Regions from separate parts of the Homo sapiens genome. Here region 1 is linked to region 2. The links come from fine-mapping of genetic effects on gene expression. A gene starts in region 2. The other region holds a variant in brackets. All regions are shown on one strand. Distances are between the middles of the regions. Region 1 has its middle 11 kb from the start of VDAC2. Region 2 holds the start of COMTD1 (catechol-O-methyltransferase domain containing 1).

Evidence for each region.
Region 1: its variant is fine-mapped to the expression of COMTD1 in whole blood (TOPMed, PIP 0.99).

The regions. Positions count from the first base shown.
Region 1 is chr10:75,198,186-75,201,086 of GRCh38, forward strand. No RefSeq gene overlaps it. Among named protein-coding and RNA genes, the nearest start is that of VDAC2, 11 kb to the right of the region's middle. The variant G/A (reference allele first, on the strand shown) is at 1,189.
Region 2 is chr10:75,234,739-75,237,590 of GRCh38, forward strand. COMTD1 (catechol-O-methyltransferase domain containing 1) reads right to left here and starts at 1,219. Exons shown (of 7, transcript NM_144589.4): 1 at 1,097-1,219; 2 at 878-1,005; 3 at 529-634; 4 at 322-440; 5 at 200-254; 6 at 1-5. The coding sequence starts at 1,190. RefSeq lists silencers at 1-177, 338-627, 758-837, 998-1,137, 1,173-1,467.

The DNA.
Region 1 (2,901 bases), 37 kb before region 2:
AGATTCAGGCAGCTGTGGGATGTGAATCACGAGACATTCTCAGTGGTGACCCAGTGAAAGGTCTTGGAGAAGCCCCCTCCCTGCTGCCCAATTTACCCTCACTGTGGAAGCTCCTGTCCTCACTACAAATTTAAAAGGAAAGAATTTTGAAGGCAACTCTGTCAATGGATGCAAGTCATGACTGGAATAGTCCAAAGCAGTGGACTCTTTAAATGTTGTATAAATATTACTAGTCACCCTCCATGGGGAAGGCTTTGACAATGAGGAGGCAATATAAGTGGTGGCTCAGAGTATGCGCCTCACACTCAGAGAGAGCTGGCTTAGATTCTGTCTCTAGCTCTTGAAGAACTAGCTATGCATCCCAAGCCAGGCCTGTGCATCTCCGTAAGCTTGTGTTTCACGCTTAATGGTACCTGTCTCATAGGGTTGTTATGAGAATTAAATAGGCCGGCCATGGTGGTGGGTGCCTGTAATCCCAGCTACTTGGGAGGCTGTGGCAGGAGACTCACTTGAACCTGGGAGTCAGAGGTTGCAGTGAGCCACGATCGTGCCACTGCGCCCCAGCCTGGGTGACAGAGCAAGACTCCATCTCAAAAAAAAAAAAAAGAGAGAGAGAATTAAATAAAGCACATGAATTGTTTCGAGCAATGCCTGGCACAAAGGAAGTGCCTGATATGTGTTAGCCATGACTACTTTGATTGTGTTTATTATTCATGACTAGTGTCATCATTATTAGATATTTGGTGGGTGGTGGGGATAGAGTTGAGTAAGAAACAATTCTCAGCCGGGCGCGGGGGGCTCACAATTGTAATCCCAGTACTTTCAGAGGCTGAGGCGGGTGGATCTCCTGAAGTCAGGAGTTTGAGATCAGCCTGACCAACATGGAGAAACCCCATCTCTACTAAAAATACAAAATTAGCCAGGCGTGGTGGCACATGCCTGTAATCCCAGCTACTTGGGAGGCTGAAGCAGGAGAATCACTTGAACCTGGGAGGCGGAGGTTGTGGTGAGCTGAGATCACGCCATTGCACTCCAGCCTGGGCAACAAGAGTGAAACTCTGTCTCAAAAAAAAAAGAAAGGAGGGCAGGACAGGGCAGGGCAGGGCAGGGCAGGGCAAGATTCTATTGAAGAGCTTGATGGGGAAAGCAGAGTTGTGGTTTTTGGTTTTTTTTAGTATAAAAAAAAAA[G/A]TGGGCTGGGGATAGTGGCTCATGCCTGTAATCCCAGAACTTTGAGAGGCCGAGGCAGGAGGATCACTTGAGCCCAGGAGTTCAAGACCAGCCTGGACAATATAGAGAGACCCTGTCTCTACAAAAATAAGAAAAATAGCCAGGTATGGTGGTGCACGTGCCTGTAGTCCCAGCTACTTGGAAGGCTAAGGTGAAAGGATTGCTTGAGCTTGGGAGGTTAAGTCTGCAGTGAGCTGAGATTGCGCCACTGCATTTGTTTTGAAAAATAAGAGAAAAGAAAAAAAAGAAAAAAAGAATATAAAAAGGAAAGGAAGAAAAGAAAAACGAAAATATTGTGTTAATGATGTTCACTCGGAAAATTAAAAAAAAAAAGAAAATATGTAATAAATGTTATAAGGTAACAAATTCCATAGAATTTCAGAGGAAATAAAATGAACTTGTAGCTGGTAAGACAGAAGAAAATTGTGGTGGGAGTATATTTGAGCTGGGCTTTATAAGGATTCAGAGAATTTAACTTAAAACAGTGGGGACAAGGAGGCATTCTAGGTACAGTGAGCATAAGCAATGGCAGTGACACTAAACAAACCGTGATTTGGGAATTGCCTGTGACCTGAATTGGCACAGGTGGCAGGTGGGAAACATGACTGTGACAGAGGCAAGATAGGATCATGGTTCCATCATCATTGTGTCAGGGACCTTATCCTATGGGTAAATGGGAGCCACTGAAGATCCTTGAGCAGGAGTCTCTGCGTTATCCCCACTATTGGGGCTAAGCATTCCCACAGAATGTGCTGAGCTTTTTTTTTTTTTTTTTGAGATGGAGTTTCACTCTTATTGCCCAGGCTGGAGAGCAATGGCGCTATCTCAGCTCACTGCAACCTCTGCCTCCCAGGTTCAAGTGATTCTCCTGCCTCAGCCTCCTGAGTAGCTGGGATTATAGGTGTGCGCCACCACGGCCCGCTAATTTTTATATTTTTAGTAGAGATGGGGTTTCACCATGTTGGTCAAGCTGGTTTCGAACTCCTGACCTCGTGATCCGCCTGCCTCGGCCTCCCAGAGTGCTGGGATTATAGGCGTGAGCCACTGCGCCCAGCTGTGCTGAGCTTTTTAAAGAAACAAAACAGTGTTTCACCAGTGTTCCAACCAGAACTCTGAGCAAGGCCACAGGTTACTGACTGAACAATGAATAGGAAAGCCTTTTTTTTTCTCTTTTTTGAGACAGGGTCTCACTCTGTCACCCAGGCTGGAGTGCAGTGGCGCGACCTCAGCTCACTGCAACCTTCGCCTCCTGGGCTCAAGCGACCCTCCCACCTCAGCCTCCCAAGTACCTGGGAGCACAGGTGTGTGCCACCACACCCAGCTAATTATTTTGTATTTTTTGGTAGAGATGGAGTTTTGCCATGTTGCCCAGGCTGGCCTCAAACTCCTGAGGTCAAGTGATCTGCCCGCCTCAGCATCCCAAAGTTTTGGAATTACAGGCATGAGCCACTGAGCCTGGCTGGAAAGTCCCTTTTTTTTTTTTTCTTTTTTAATTGAGACCGAGTCTGGCTCTTGTTGCCCAGGCTGGAGTGCAGTGGCATGATCTTGGCTCACTTGGCTCACGATCTTGGAGGATCAACCTCCACCTCCTGGGTTCAAGCAATTCTCCTGCCTCAGCCTCCCAAGTAGCTGGGATTACAGGCATGCGCCACCACGCCCAGCTAATTTTTGTAT
Region 2 (2,852 bases):
CTCGTCTTGCGGGGGGAGGGAGGGCAGGTGCGGCTGAGTCCGCGGCCCCGGCGGCCCTGAGGCCCCTCCCAGGCCGGCCCGGGCTCTGTGACAACCGGCCCTGCCCTTAACCTGCCCGGCAGGCCCAGTCACAGCTCGGCCACACAGCAGCCTCGTTTGCAATGAATGGCTTCAAAGCCCTTCCCGCTTCGGTGCTCACCCAGGGTCTCCAAGGCGGGCTTCAGCCGGAGGTCGATCTTGTGCTCCGCCTCGGCCTGCGGAGGGAGCGGGTCAGCCGTTGCGCCCCCGCCTGGGGCTGCAGAGCTAGGCGCGGGCGCTCACCTGCCTCCACAGGGGCCGTCCCAGCTCCGGGGGCTGCGCGTCCACCTCGCAGGTCACCACGCGCCCGTCCGCGGGCAGCGCCAGGGCCAGGGCCAGGGCGGAGTAGCCCGTGAAGGTGCCTGGGACCAGGACACAGACGGGCTCAGCCCAGAGTGGGGGTCGGCCCGGAAACCTCGGCCCTCCGGGATCCCGGCCGCGTGCCCCTACCCAGGTCCAGCGCCTTCTTGGCCTGGATGAGCCGCGCCAGGTTGGCCAAGAGCTGGGCCTGCTCGCAGGTCATCATAGAATCCCCCTGCGGCTGCTCCAGGGTCAGCTGCGTGAAAGGAGAGGGTGGCACCAGCCATGCAGGTCACCCACCTTCGCCCTGGGGGTCCCAAGCCCCAGGGGCGCGGTTCTGGGCGTGGCCTGGGGGACTGGCCCTTCGGAACGCCCACCGCACCCGGCCCAGGGAAGCCGGAAGCCCAGGGAGGGCCAGGGCCCAGCCCAAGGTCACACAGCCACGTGGGACCCGCAGGGGTCGAGAGGGACGCCCGTTTCCGTCCCGCGCCCTGCTGACCAGCCTCAGGCTTCGCAGCGCCGGGTGCTCCCGCATGGAGCGGCTCAGAAGATACTGCCACAGGCGGCTGTCCTCGGGGGGAAGCAGGCACTGCTCTCGCCGGCCTCGCCATGGGGGGCACCGCCTCCCTGACGGGGAGAGGGTGTTGGATTAACCTGAGCCACGCCGCGCCCTACTCTGCGCCCGCCCACCCGCCCGCCGGGACCAGGTCCTGCTCACCCAGGAAGAGGCCAGTGGCGAAGGCGGCGCCCAGTGCGGCTGAGCCCAGGGCCAGCGCGGCGGGCACGGAGAGCCGGGGCACCGGCTGGGTCATGGCGCGGGCAGGAGGCGGCGGGAGGCAGTGACAGGTCACGTGAGCTGGAGCTCCTGGGACAGGTCTCGGACTCGCGGGCCCGCCGGGCTCCACCTTGTCGGGGCACTACCCGCGGAGCCGCGGTCTCGGGCATCATCTGGCGGCCACACAGCCTTACTGCAAGCCCCGCCCGAGAGAGCCGGGCGCGATCTGGTGGCCGCGCCGGGAACTGCGCCCCTGCGGGGAGCAGGCCAAGCGCCTAGATCTGAATTTTCCCGCCTGTGCCCGCAGTCCAGGTGCCTGCCTCCATTCCCCTCCTGCCAATGCTTTTTTCTCCTCGCCACCATTTATTCTGAGGCCCCTTGGGGGCATATGTGAATTGTGTATGGAGGGCGCCAGTGTAAGTTACAAGATAGTCACAAGTACAAGAGATAGAGATTAAAGGGGGAAGGCCTCCTGGACAAGATGCCCCAAAGCATCAGGCTGAAGGAGTGAGGGAACTGGTTTGAGGGCATGCAGCCTCGAATTGGGGTTCAGGAGCCCTGGGGTGGGCCTGTGGAACTGAGACCATATTCTTAGCTGTTAAAATCCTGCTTTTGGGGGCCAGATGGATACGAGTGTCTAATCTTGGTCCTGCCAGTCTCTCTGAGCCTCAGTTTCCTTCCTGTAAAATGAGGCCTACAATCTTACCATAAAAGGCACCAGATCCCACAGCTTCGCACACAGTAGCACAATACATAAGTGGCAGCTGCTGTTATGTTGGTAGGTTGGAATGAAGACATCTTGGGGAGAAAGCCGGTGAAGCTCCCTTGCAAGGTTGTTCTGTTGAAACACTGTCCAGAGAACACTGATTGAACCCCTACCATGCGCCAAACTCCGGAGGAGGTGAAAGACGCTGACGCTGTCCTTTTTTTTTTTTTTTTTGAGACTGAGTCTCGCTCTGTCACCCAGGCTGGAGTGCAGTGGCACAATCTGGTCTCACTGCAACCTCCACCTCCTGATTCAAGCGATTCTCCTGCCTCAGACTCTGGAGTAGCTGGGACTACAGGCACGCACCCCTACACCCAACTAATTTTTGTATTTTTTGTAGAGACGGGTTTTGCTATTTTGGCCAGGCTGGTGTCAGACTCCTGGCCTCAAGTGATCTGTTTGCCTCGTCCTTCCAAAGTGCTGGGATTACAGGCCTGAGCCATTGTGCCTGGCGTTGGTGTTCTTTTTTTTTTTTTTGGCAAGGTCTCTGGCAAGGCTGAAGTGCAGTGGCAAGATTACTGCTTATTGCAGCATCGAGCTCCCAGGCTCAGCAATCCTCTTGCCTCAGCCTCCCAAGTAGCTGGGACCACAGGCGGTCACCACTGTGCCCAGCTAATTTAAAAAAAAAAATTTTTTTTTTAAAGAGAAGGGGTCTTACTATGTTGTCCAGGCTGGTCTCGAACTCCTGGCTTTAAGTGATCCTCCTGCCTCAGCCTCCCAAAGTGCTGGGATTACAGGTGTGAGCCCCCGTGCCTGGCCTCTGGTTGGTATTCTTAGTGAAGCTGGTTTCAGAGATGCAGGTCACACACAGCTGGCGGGTGGCCTAAGCTTCACGACTTCTGCCTCTGTGAAATGGCGTTATGAATAGTCCCAACCTCCTAGGGGACCAAATGAGAAAATCCAGGCTGAGGACTTACACAGGGGACCAAATGA